Regions from separate parts of the Homo sapiens genome. Here all the other regions are reported to be linked to region 1. The links are microRNA targets in miRTarBase. Many come from high-throughput screens and were not tested one by one. Region 1 holds a microRNA gene; each other region holds the end of a gene's coding sequence.
Evidence for each region. The annotated mature microRNA hsa-miR-4723-5p reads UGGGGGAGCCAUGAGAUAAGAGCA and lies in region 1 at 3,085-3,108, shown strand. An mRNA with a match to its seed (bases 2 to 7 or 8) in the 3' UTR can be bound and repressed. Matches are read on the target gene's strand: a 7mer-m8 pairs with bases 2 to 8, a 7mer-A1 pairs with bases 2 to 7 and ends in A, and an 8mer does both.

Region 2: miRTarBase lists AFF2 as a target of hsa-miR-4723-5p. Seed matches in the 3' UTR shown: 7mer-A1 at 3,490-3,496.
Region 3: miRTarBase lists VPS37D as a target of hsa-miR-4723-5p. Seed matches in the 3' UTR shown: 8mer at 302-309, 7mer-m8 at 338-344 and 7mer-A1 at 671-677.

Annotation. Positions count from the first base shown.
Region 1 is chr17:28,357,576-28,362,152 of GRCh38, forward strand. It overlaps MIR4723 (microRNA 4723), which reads left to right and starts at 3,079; the gene lies at 3,079-3,159. It overlaps VMA12 (vacuolar ATPase assembly factor VMA12), which reads left to right and starts at 72. Exons shown (of 6, transcript NM_152464.3): 1 at 72-306; 2 at 1,341-1,414; 3 at 1,740-1,829; 4 at 2,954-2,996; 5 at 3,160-3,272; 6 at 3,582-4,577. The coding sequence starts at 96. The coding sequence ends at 3,677. RefSeq lists enhancers at 1-117, 230-329 and a silencer at 1-39.
Region 2 is chrX:148,990,950-148,995,233 of GRCh38, reverse strand. It overlaps AFF2 (ALF transcription elongation factor 2), which reads right to left. Exons shown (of 21, transcript NM_002025.4): 21 at 1-4,023. The coding sequence ends at 3,902. Among named protein-coding and RNA genes, the nearest start is that of AFF2, 490 kb to the right of the region's middle.
Region 3 is chr7:73,671,137-73,675,420 of GRCh38, forward strand. It overlaps VPS37D (VPS37D subunit of ESCRT-I), which reads left to right. Exons shown (of 4, transcript NM_001077621.2): 4 at 1-974. The coding sequence ends at 240. Among named protein-coding and RNA genes, the nearest start is that of VPS37D, 5.4 kb to the left of the region's middle.

The sequences.
Region 1 (4,577 bases):
AGCTCAGAGCAACTTCCGGTGCGCTTAGCGTTACTTCCGGCGCGCGGCGGGCGGAAGTCCGGGTTGGGGTCACCTGACCGGAGAGCCGGCTAGATATGGCGTCCTCTTTGCTTGCGGGCGAGCGATTGGTGCGTGCTTTGGGCCCCGGCGGGGAGCTGGAGCCAGAGCGGCTACCCCGAAAGCTGCGGGCCGAGCTTGAGGCCGCGCTGGGGAAGAAGCACAAGGGCGGTGATAGCTCCAGTGGCCCCCAACGCTTGGTTTCTTTCCGTCTCATCCGGGATCTGCACCAGCATCTGAGAGAAAGGGGTGAGCCCCAGTCTCCAGTCCGGGGTCCCCTCCTTGTGTCCAGATCGATTCCCTCCTGAGGTCTTTTCCCATCATTCCCCTTCTTCTACGGAGCACTCATCTAGACAAGTCAAGAGTCACTCCATAAATCCCAGGGCCACCCACTTTCTTAACTCCCATGGGAATTTCTCGTGGATGACAAATTTGCTTGTGCAGTTTCTGCTCTTTTGAGAGCCCCCTCTTCACTTCCAGGCACACCTAGGCCCAATTCACCCTTGAGAAAGTCTAGGTTTTTACCAAATACAAATATCACAGGTTTTGTCTCTTCTTTTTCTCCACTTTAGGAATCAGCTTAGCATAGTGAGCTTGTAGGAATCCGGATTTCTTTCCACCTCAAAAGCAAGAGTGGTGAAATCTGATACTTTGTTTTGTTTGTTTGTTTTTTTAATATAGGATGGCAAAAGCTGTGTTGAAAGATCTGGCCTGAGAGTAGCATGTGAGTTCCAGTCCTAGCTCTGTCACTAATCCTTTGAAGGAGTCATTTCTCCTCGCTGGGCCTCAGTTCCCTTATGTGTAAAGGGAAGGAACAGGACAAACTAGCACATAAGGTATTTTGCCAGAAGTAACATAGACCAGCCAGAAGTGCAAAGGGTAGACTGCTCAATTATTAGAACTAGAAAGGACCTTAGAAAGAGATTGCCTAGTATTAGTGTCCTCTGAGCATTTAGCATCACTATGACCTAAACTTATTTAGGGAAGAGCTGTTGTGGCCACAGAACTGATCTAACCCAAAGGCACAAGTAAATGGCTTACTTGTTAGTTATAACACTGGCAGGATAATTGAGAGCTGACAGCTAAAGTCACCTGCGCAGCACTGGGAGATACCTACATGGAATTATCCAAAATTCTTTTCAATTGAAAATGATCCTGGAAATGGATTAATGTAGAGATGGCCCTGTTTTATTTTGGTAGAAAGAAGGGCTACACCCCTCTTGATCTTAACCCTTCAACCTCAGCTCGTGGATCATTGTGTTTGTGAAACCTTTTCTTCTCAGATTCCAAACTATACCTCCATGAGCTCCTAGAAGGCAGTGAAATCTATCTCCCAGAGGTTGTGAAGCCTCCACGGGTATGTAAGGGATATGTTTGTGAGAGTGGTTATTGACTGAGTTGGGCTTATCCATGATACACTGAACTTATAAATCAACTTTTAGGCTTGAAAAATTGTTTTTGAAATCTTTGGGATCTGGGGGAGCCAGATATTGTCCTCCCCATCAGCTGTTTGGAAAATTGAGATCAAAAAAAAAAAAAACAGTTTCAAAGCACTGGAGTTACGACTAGTATGTGGGTCTCCTGATACCTTTAGCAGTGCTTTACCCCTGGAACCAATGATTGTGATGTGCTTTCTAACAAGCTGGGAATATCATTCTTCTCATTTGATTTTTCTGCTTCAGAACCCAGAACTAGTTGCCCGGCTGGAGAAGATTAAGATACAGCTGGCCAATGAGGAATATAAACGGATCACCCGCAACGTCACTTGTCAGGTAAGGACATGCTCTTCAGTACGTGGTCTAGGTAGCCCCTCAGAGTAGGGCCCTGCAGTGGAAGAAGATACAGAGTTTAGAAAAAACATGGAAACTTGGTTTCTATACTGTTCAGGGACCATAGGAAGTCTGCATACAAACAACACAGTTCCCATCTCATTCACTGAGACTCTGGGCTGAGATGGTGACCAAGTTTTAAACGTCATAGAAGTGGGAGTTAGCCGGGCACGGCGCTCATGCCTGTAATCCTAGCACTTTGGGAGGCTGAGGTAGGTGGATCACTTGAGGTCGGGAGTTCGTGACCAGCCTGGCCAACATGGTGAAACCCCGTCTTTACAAAAAATACAAAACTTAGCCTGGCGTGGTGGCGGGCACCTGTAATCCCAGCTACTCGAGAGGCTGAGGCAGGAGAATCACTTGAACCCAGGAGGCGGAGGCAGAGGCTGCTGTGAGCCAACACTGCACCATTGCACTCCAGCCTGAGCAACAAGAGCAAGACTCCATCTCAAAATAAATAAATAAATAAATAAATAAGTGGGAATGAATCTTGGAGGCTTTTTTTCTTCTTCTTTTTTTTTTTTGAGATGGAGTCTCACTCTGTCACCCAGGCTGGAGGGCAGTGGCAGGATCTCTGCTCACTGCGGCCTCCGCCTTCCAGGTTTAAGTGATTCTTATGCCTCAGCCTCCCAAGTAGCTGGGATTACAGGCATGCACCACCACGCCAGGCTAATTTTTTGTATTTTTAGTAGAGACCACGTTGGCCAGGCTGGTCTTGAACTCCCAGCCTCAAGGTGATCCTCCTGCCTCGGCCTCCCAAAGTGCTGGGATTACAAGGTGAGCCACTGTGCCCAGCCATTCGAGCATTTCTTCTGACAGGGCTCCCTACTACTCTATGGCATGCTCCTACCCTGGAACAGGAGAGTAGATGGGTACTGGCAGCCTATGTCCTCTCTCCGAAATGCCTGCTCTGTAGTCCAGAAAAGAGTCAAAATGGTTCCAGACAAAAGAATCCATGGGGAGGGCAGAGTTAATATGTTGGGGAATAGAGAGGGCTGAGCCAGACTGTCAATGGATGCTCTCTGAGCTGCTTCTATTCTGAATCATCTTCTTTTTCTTTTTCCCAGGATACAAGACATGGTGGGACTCTCAGCGACCTGGGAAAGCAAGGTGAGGTACTAGGAGATCAGGCTTCTAAAACCTTTTCCTGAGATGGGTCATGACACTCAGGCTTGTTGTTTGACTGAAACCCAGTTGGTGGGGGAGCCATGAGATAAGAGCACCTCCTAGAGAATGTTGAACTAAAGGTGCCCTCTCTGGCTCCTCCCCAAAGTGAGATCATTGAAGGCTCTGGTCATCACCATCTTCAATTTCATTGTCACGGTGGTTGCTGCCTTCGTCTGCACTTACCTTGGAAGCCAATATATCTTCACAGAAATGGCCTCGGTGAGTAGGCACTGGGCAGGGCAGGGTGCCCCTGGTGGGGGTGTTAGTGGGTAAGGGAGGACGTATGTGAAAGTGCCTTGCACAGGTTAGGTATTGAACAGATATTTATGCCATTAATAAGGGGAGCATTAGAGCTTTCCAGCAGTCACGGGAGGTTAGGTAATAACCCCAGGAGAAGCCACATTCTCTTTTCTTCCCCTCCCCCAACTTAGAGGGTGGTTGGGGGGCTCTCCATCCTCATTAAAGTTGCTGGGGTACAGAGCTGGTTGTTGGCCTGCATCCCTTAAGCCTGGTTCTCCCCATCTCCAGCGGGTGCTAGCTGCATTGATCGTCGCCTCTGTGGTGGGTCTGGCCGAGCTGTATGTCATGGTGCGGGCAATGGAAGGCGAGCTGGGAGAACTGTAACTGGTGCTTCATCATCAAGTCTAGAGAAGACTTTGGGGGCTTCAGGCTCCAATTGGCAGTCACCGACTCAGTCAACCCATCAGACTTTTTGTATTCAGCTCCAGTTAGTCAGAAGACCAGCCCAGGCCAGCTGCTGTTTCTGTGGGGAGCCCTAATCTTCTGTGAATTTCCAAAGGGAGCATTGGAGGAGATTGAGATAACACATCTTTAAAACAGAAAGAACTGGTCTTGGTCTATCAGTACCTCTTCCTGAATCTGGTACCCATCTGCCTTCTCCAGTTCATTCTAAACACTGCTGGGACTAGGGTTTTTCCATCAGGAGCAAATGGAATCCAGGCCTTCCCAGAAGTAGACCATACTGCCTTGAACTTGTCCATATGTACAAACTGATCACCAGCTTTCTCCATACATTTTTAATGCAGACCTGTAATTGAGTTCAGAAGCCTCCAAGAAAACAGAAAGGATCCCCTTTCTCCAGTTTGTGCTGGAAGAGGAGCTGATCAGAGACATCAAATAAGAGAAAGATGGGTTGCTAGAGGATGGTAGAACTGGAAGCAAGGCAGCTACCTTTTTGCAAAAGGAAATGGTGTTAGGCCCCTTTTCCAGAAGATAAGACAGACTCATAGAGATTAAATGATCACTATGGTCCTTCTTCTGTTAAATGGAGCCAAAGACGCCTATGTTGTTCTGAAGTCTTGTAATGTTTAACTTCTGAGAACTTAGATTAGTGGTGTGATGATAGAGTCTGTATAACGCATTGAAAAGGGTATCAGGCTTAGTTATTTATCCAATAAATATTTATTGTATGCAGGGTATTCCTATTTTAACTCCTGTGACAACACAAAGCATAGCGATTTCCATAGTTCTAACTGTTCAGGGTCTGCTCCTCCTGGTACACTC
Region 2 (4,284 bases), not on the chromosome of region 1:
AGTCTACTAACACTAAAGAGAAAATGAATTAGATTTTAATTATGAGAATAAGGCCGTGCGAGTGAAAATGAGAAACAACAACAACAATAACAACAACGATGAAGAATTTAGTCTGCCAGTCATGTAACAGAACACTGACAACTGGCTCAATAATTTTTCCCCACAGAATTAAATTTGGGGGTGCTGAATTGACCCATTCATTTGATACTGTGTAGCTGTATCATCTTGCCACACATTTTTCTCAATGGGGATAGTGATGCTTCTCTAAGCAAGCAGTTCATTGCTTTACTGAGTAGTCTTACCCAGTGATCCAGTTTGGTTCTCCCACCTGCCAACTCATGCAGGTGAATTTTATCATGTCTGTTGAGAAGTATGTGAGGCTTCACCCTCACAACTCAACTGATTCTGCCTTCAAAGATATTTTCCAACCTCAAACTCCAACTTCAACCTCCGGGATGCAAATTTGCATGAAACAGAATCCAAATTAGATATCTTTGGGAAAGATATGCTAGAAGAGTATCTTTCCAATGCAGACAAAATCTAATGAATTTAGTGATGTAATGTCCAAATGAAAATTCATCCATTTGGAAACTCAACAAAACACATTTTTAGCCAATGGTTTCTAATTTTGCAACTTGCTTTTTGCCTGAAGATTTTGGTCTTTTCATTTCCTTACATGGAAAAAAAGGCATCCCGACCTTAAGTCTTTTAAAAGTAGTAGCAGCTAATCTGCTTTTCCAATTATGTCATCCAAATATAAAACTACTAGTATTTTCCCAATGAGATTATTAAGTAATTAACAGTCTACAGGCTGGCTAACAACATGCTTACAGCTAAATTCTACCCGGAGGACCACACTAGTAAACCCTTTTCAAAGTAATCCTACCTACCAAACTCAGACAGTTATATGACAAAACCACTAAAAATCCAAAGTTAATTAAAAATACAAAGCCAAGCCAACATCATAACACAAACTTGTCAAACTCTCTGTGGTTGGAGCTTGGGTGACAAGTGAAGGCGTAGTGGTGGCCCTACCTGGGTCAAGTTGCAGGGCTGAGATCATTTGGTGTACTTGCTCAGATGGAGCTTCCTTTTACTCTGCCCTCTATTCTAACCTCCACGTGCTTATTTAAGTGTGTCTCACCAAGCCTCCATCAAGATCTAGAGGCACGATCTCTCACTGCCATCCACATGTCTCATATCCCTCCCACAAACTGGTATACTGAAGAGATTCATTTGACAGAATATCTCCATCCCTTAGTCCCTCAAATAGCTGCACACCTACGACACGCATCACCATTTACACTGTGATGAACAGAGTAACTATAAAACAGCAACAATCCTTAATCATGAAACTGAAAGATGTCTTATCTCAAGGGATAGGAAGGTAATTCATCCTCCATGTTTAATTAGTTCCTAAGCTGCTTTATAAATGAGTCTACTACATAATCAAGTGGTGATCCAGAGCTCGATTGTCAGATTTGGTCACTGTGCTGCAGACTTGGCACATATTTTACACTCAGTCACCAGAGATGACAGAGAATCCTCTTGCCTCCCTGTTGTATGTAAGTAGATATAACAAGTCACTGAAACTAGAACTACAAGTCTTTCATCCATGAGGCAATATGCTTGTTTCTCTGGGAAACTGCCTCAACATTCTAATGTCTAGTTTCTGGATGTGGGATTTCAAGAAGAATCTACTCCTAAATCCATGATGGTCTAGGATTGTGGTTTAGGTTGAACTTACAAGTCAAGCCAGTGGGCTTCATTATATAGTAATAGCCAGGCACTCTACCTGGTAAACCATGATAAAGAGACAACTTGAGTCACTGCAAAGTCATCAGCTTAATTTTTATATGTGACACCAACCTTGGGTGTTCAGAGTCTTTAATGTTATCATCATTTTCCTCTTTTAAGAGGCTCAGAAAAGATTCTTTCAGGTTTCATTTGTGAGTGTTTGGATGCATAAGTGTTGTTGCTGAGACTGTAAACATAAAGCTCAACCACAGTGGGAGCATAAAAAGTGCTGGGTTCAGCTGCAGGGATGCTCCCATCAGCCATATTAACAACATGGCTTCAGCCATTGGAGTACAACTTCCACAGCCTTATACAACAAAAGGCCTTAAACTCAAAGATGACCAGAGCACAGCTCAAGTCTGGCTGTTTTGCAACTGGGGATATATCTAACCTTGACAATGAGAGTGCAGAGTCATCACCTGCTGTTTCTATCATGGACCTGCATGGCTGGCTTTAATAATCACACAAGTTTGCATCTTTCATGTGCATATCTATTATTTATCTGGTCATAACTCAGTGAACAGAATTTGATAACCCAGCATATTAAAGGCTACATGGAATTATATACCAGCAGGTAATTACCAGTAAGTAATGCATGGATAGTGTTTACCCCAAGTGTAAGAATCTTCTGGTGAGCTGGAACATCAAAAATGATATTTACATTGTGATGTTTAGGGACATAAAATGAATGTGAAGGATCATAAGGGGGTAGTCACAACCAGTGAGAAATGTCTCCAAATTAGGTGAATGGTTCCCAATGTTTAGGGCTCTTTCAAAGCATCTCAAGGTGAAGCACTACCCCACGACTCATTTTAAAAAAATAAAAGTTAGCTACTATTTAGAGAGTTTGGAGTTTTCTTAGAAATTTTCATGGAAATGATTCACAATAATATGGACTTTAATAAAAGGAGTAATTGTAATTCAGTCAAAAGTTAATGAGCCAAACAAAGGAAAGGGAAACACAGATAAGAGAAAAAAGAAAGTAGAAAACAGAAAACCTATAAGAGAGAAAATGTGAATAATAATTGAGGAAGTCCAGATTTTCAAGCCACTAGGAAGAAAACTGTATATCATTACTTCTAGGTAGTGATACCTTGACTTTTGTTCCCATAGATTTGAGCAAAATACAATTTAAAAATCCTGCCAGTTATGGACCCACTTACCAACTGTGTAAATGTTGTTGTTGCAAAGGAGGCAGAGGTGTGAATTCCTTGTTGGACACTTTCCAGACCTCTCTTAACTCCCACTTGTAAGTCTAGAGTGTAGCATTTTGGCTACTAAGGCATGCATCAACCAAACTGTTCTTCAAAAGGACAGCTTTGCACACAGAGAACCCCAGGTGAGGATTTACACTTCAAATAATGGAGTTGAAAAACACTGATGCCAGCTGATGCCTAAAACTTGTCAAAATAAATGTCACCCTTTCTTCTTATCATTAAAATTAACAAAATAGGGAATCAGGAAAGGGATGCTAACAAGAAAGTCCTCTGGTTGTGTGGCATAGCATCTTTTTAAGAGTAGCATTGCTATGCTCATTTATTTTCTTGATACTCTTGATTTTATGATGTTGCTACAACATCTAACCAGTGGGTTTTGACAATGAAAATTCTCACCTGAAGATTGAATCTGTGGGATACACAAAAGTTTGACAGATTCTGAAATATGTTCTTTTCTGGGTATAAGAGTAGAGTTTGGGGGATGGTCCCTTGTGTCTAAGTTCTCATGTATATGTAAGACCACTTGTTGCATTTCTCAGGAGCCTGTCTTTATCACAAGTGCTTCCCATTCTTTGTTTTGGGTAGTGTGGGCTTAAAACAATATTGTAGGGACTGTCATTCCATAAAGCACAAAAAGATGGTGGAATCTGAGAAATGCATATCAAATGCTAAAAGAAAAAAAATGACTAAGTAATAAAACGTACACTGCCCTTAAGTTGTAGTGTCAACTTACAATGACTTCTGTTTTTTACAGATAACAAAAGAAGCATAAAAACAAACATAACCAAAGAGAACGTTCCCCAGTGAGTGGAGTTCCACCAGTGACCATCAGTGCGCTGGTAGAGGTAGAGTGATGGGTCGTGATGCTAGAGATCTGAGAACACCCACTACAACAAGTGGGCATCGATGCGCAGCCAACACAGTCCTTGGCGAACGTAGCGGACAAGATTGGTCATGCTGCTGTGCTGGGTCAGAGGCCCCATCAGCGTGTCCAGATCACCAAAGAATTCTGAAAAGCAGAGCAGTTCTCAGTTAGGCCTTTATATGATATCATGAAAATATGCACCACATTGAGAAGCTGCTTTCACACAACACCACAACCACATGGACAATGGAAATGTGATTCATTTGTCCATTCATTCATTCAACAAACATTTATAGAGTGCCTACTAGGAGACCAAAACTCCACAAGTTTATCAAGCCCTATTATTTTAATCTTTAGTGAGCTCCAAAAACTCTGCAGTACATAATACATTTATGTTTTCATAGA
Region 3 (4,284 bases), not on the chromosome of region 1:
CGGCGTCGGGAGCGTTCTGCCCAGCCGGCCCCCACCTCGGCTGCTGATCCCCCCAAATCCTTCCCGGCTGCAGCTGTCCTGCCCACTGGGGCCGCCCGGGGGCCACCAGCAGTGCCCCGGAGCCTGCCCCCCTTGGACTCCCGCCCAGTGCCCCCACTGAAGGGCTCCCCCGGGTGCCCCCTCGGCCCGGCCCCCCTGCTGAGCCCTCGGCCCTCGCAGCCAGAGCCCCCCCACCGGTAGGATCCACGGTGCGGCCCCCCAGTTGGGGGGCCTAGACAAACTTGATGCGTGGCTCCTCCTCCTCCCCCACTGCCTGGGTGGGGGGAGGGGCAGGCCCCTCCCCCTGGCCTCAGGCAGGCCCTGGCCCTGGAGGCTGAGCTGGGGAGGAGGGTCCCCTGGAAGAGGCCCGAGAGGGGGCTGGGGGTGGGTGGGCAGGGCTTTATGCCTCTGGCGCTGAAGACACCCTGCCTTTTTTGTTTCCGTGCCCCGGGGCCTCTAGGGTGATGGACCAGCCCCGTTAAAGAACTTGACTCAACTACAGGGGCCTGGGAAGATGCCTGGGTCCCCTAGGGGCCTTGCCAAGGGGACCTGTCGCACCCCACCACTCCACTGGGCTCGCACAACGCCAAGGCCGCCAGGAGTGTTTTACATCATGTCCTGAGCCTACCTTTCCCCCAAATTCTGGGGCCCACAGCCTAGGAGCCAGGTGATCAGGCCTCGGCTGTGGGGCCAGGGACACCATGGCCCTGGGGCTACTACGTGTCCACACATGCTCCAGACCCTGGGGCAAGGTAGGCCAGGGGCTTCTGACCTGTGCAGGTGAGAGTGGGCCATACCCAGGAAAGACCATTCTGTATTTTTCTGTCCCTGTCTCCTTAGAATGGAAGCTTTTTGAGGGCAGGTCCTTGTCTTTGTACGTTCTGTCCCCAGCCCCGCCTCTTAGGGGCCGTCAATAAATGTGATGATGAGGATGACGATGCTGCCCGACTCCTCTCTGCTGTTGCAGCCTCCACAGCTCAGCTCCTGTGCTTCCACTTCCTACTTTTGAGATGCTCTCCCCTCCTTTCTGCCCATGCAAAGCCCAGCTGTCCGGGTCCAACACCGCCGCTGCCTCTTCCATGAAGCCTTCTCTGATTACCAACCCGTTGAGAGCCTTTCCTAAATCTTAACTTCCCGGCATTTCCAGTCAGAAGCGCTCACTGCTCCATCTTGGTTCTCCAATTGCCTCACCTGTACGCATCTTTTCCTGGGTTGCCCATAAGCCCAATCGGGATGGTACCTGGTCTTCTCTGGCCTGCCAAATGACGGTCCCCACGGAGTGATGGAGGGCATTTTGCAGGACTGATGGCATCTGTCCTCAGCCAGGGGGAATGCTAGGTGCCAGTTTGGCTGATGATTGTGGAACAAGGAGGTGGGATATACCCTGGGTCAGCTTAGGTCAAGTCCAATGAGATGCAGTTTGGCAGGGAGGCGTGGAAGTTCTTGCAAACAAAAGGGGACAGTCACAGTGTTGTGGAAGCCTACAAAGCTAATATGGTGTTGGTCCATGTTAATAAGGACATAACTATCTGGAAAGAGGAAGGTGTTGGGGTAGCTTTGCTTTTCACTTAAGTTTTTTACTGGAAGAGGGTCCCCTCCCCCCACCCGCCCCAAATGGCACCTTTGGAGAAACAAGGATGAGAAAGAACAGTCAGTGAGGAACAGTTGAGGGATCTGTTTCAAATGTGTTTGTGTGTGATGTTCAGCCTTTGAATCTCTAAAGGGTTGGGTCACCTAGAACCAGAGGTTAAAGCCAAGACCAGTGGGTGGGAACCACAGGTCAAAGCTAAGACCAATTGGTGGAAACCGTAAGGGGCCGGATTTTGGCTCCGTTTGAGGCTCTTAAATTAGGGATGAGGCCAGGAGCGGTGGCTCATGCCTGTAATCCCAGCACTTTGGGAGGCCAAGGTGGGTGGATCACCTGAGGTCAGCAGTTCAAGACCAGCCTGGCCAACATGGCGAAAACTCATCTCTACTAAAAATACAAAAATTAGCCACGCATGGTGGTAGGGACTTGTAATCCCAGCTACTCAGGAGGCTGAGGCAGGAGAATTGCTTGAACCCGGGAGGCAGAGGTTGCAGTGGGCCAAGATCACGCCACTGCACTCCAGCCTGGGCGACAAAAGTGAAACTCCGTCCCCCCACCCAAAAAAAAAGTTAGGGGTGTTCTGTGAGGTGGATGGTCCCCATCCCTGACGATGTGGGGGCAGCAACTGCTTGATGGGCTTTTTAGAGATGTCGGCTGTAGCTAGAGGGATTGGGCTGTGGGAGCTTTAGAGCCTCAGGCCTAGACAGTCAGAGTGTCCCCCTAGTACAGGCACAGTTTAAGCACTGAGAGTGCCCACTTTAGAACCTCCATCCCACCTTGGTCTTGGTTCTACTCTCTTCACTGCTGGCACTTCAGCTGCTGGAGGCCAAGGGACACCAGAACCGCTGAGTTCCTGCTGATATGACCAAAGACTGAGCAGCCTTGGAAGACCTCTCCCCCATGCTCTCCTTCTCAGCACAGTCTGGGGCAGGATGGGCCCCTCCTGCCCTGGCTTCCCATTCCTGGTCCAAGCTTCCAGGGTGCAAAGCAGTCCATTCCCACGAAAAAGTACCTTTGTCCCATTTTTCTGAAAATGCATGGTTCCCTGCTGTTTTTTGTTTTTTTTTGCTTTTTGTTTTTTTTTGAGATGGAGTTTCGCTTTTCTCACCCAGGCTGGAGTGCAATGGAGCGATCTCGGCTCACTGGAACCTCTGCCTCCCACGTTTAAGCCATTCTCCTGCCTCACACTCCCGAGTAGCTGGTATTACAGGCATGTGTCACCAAGCCCGGCTAATTTTGTATTTTTAGTAGAGACGGGGTTTCTCCATGTTGGTCAGGCTGGTCTCAAACTCCTGACCTCAGGTGATCTGCCCGCCTTGGCCTCCCAAAGTGCTGGGATTACAGGCGTGAGCCACCGCACCTGGCTTTTTTTTTTTTTTTTTTTTTTTTGAGACGGAGTCTCGCTGTGTCGCCCAGGCTGGAGTGCAGTGGCGTGATCTCGGCTCACTGCAGGCTCCACCTCCTGGGTCCATGCCATTCTCCTGCCTCAGCCTCCTGAGTAGCTGGGACTACAGGCGCCTGCCACCATGCCTGGCTAATTATAATTATTTTTGTATTTTTAGTAGAGACGGGGTTTCACCATGTTAGCCAGGATGGTCTCCATCTCCTGACCTCGTGATCCGCCCGCCTCAGCCTCCCAAAGTGCTGGGATCACAGGTGTAAGCCACAGTGCCCGGTCCCCACTTTTTTTTTTTTTTTTTTGGCTCTCCTTCATGATTGACATGGTGTAGAGTTTGCAACCAAAAGGTAAAAAGGGGCAAAGGTTGGGCAGGTCTGGACCTTTCTCCACTATCATGAATTGGGGAGCAGCCTTTAGAAGGCAGCAGCTACCAGGTTGAGCCTCCCCTCCTCAGGGTAGGTAAGAAGCAGAGAAAGTTGAGACATGGACAAGAGAGGGACTAGGAAGAAGTGTTACCATGGGAACCAGATGGGGTCCTTCAGAAGGCCTCCCACACACCTTGTCTTGCACAGAGCTGATTCTTCTTTAGAGGGGCAGGGAGTGAGACCCCTCTGTGTTCAGCTCCAGCCTGAAAATGATCGGAGGCAGGTGAGGATGGACACCACCAGAGTGGAGTGGGCCCAGTTCTGGGTGGGCCATGGAAAGGCTTACAGTTGGATGGTTTGAAAAATCATTAACCCCTTTTGCTTGAAGGTACATGGAATGTTCAGGAAGGTTCTGGAATGTTCTGGAAGGTGCAGCACTCTGGGCCCTTCCTTTTGCCTAAAACCTTCTTGAACTTGCTGCTTCTAGATTCAGGGGGCCCCAGGAATGTTCCTGGCTGTGATCTGTGAGAGAAAACAAACTTGAGGGTCTGCATCAGGGGGCTCATGAAAAAGGTCCTACCTATTAGATACCATTTTGCTTTTACAAAACAAAACCAAAGAAGTCTCCAAATAAAACTCCCACCCCTTTTAATAAAAACAGAGCTCCCTGTTCCTCAAGAAAGTCTATTATGTACACCTCCTTGTTTGTGAATCACTAGCTTCTGCATTTTTCTAACCTTCCCCATCTTGGTTTCCAAATATGAAACATAGTAACATTAAATTGCTTTTTCTTTTTCCTAACCAATCAAGGCTCACTGAGCTAAGCAGGCTCCAACCAGTGTGGGCTCAAACCTTCACCACTGAATCGTGTAGTCCCTGCAAAGCCATGGCTA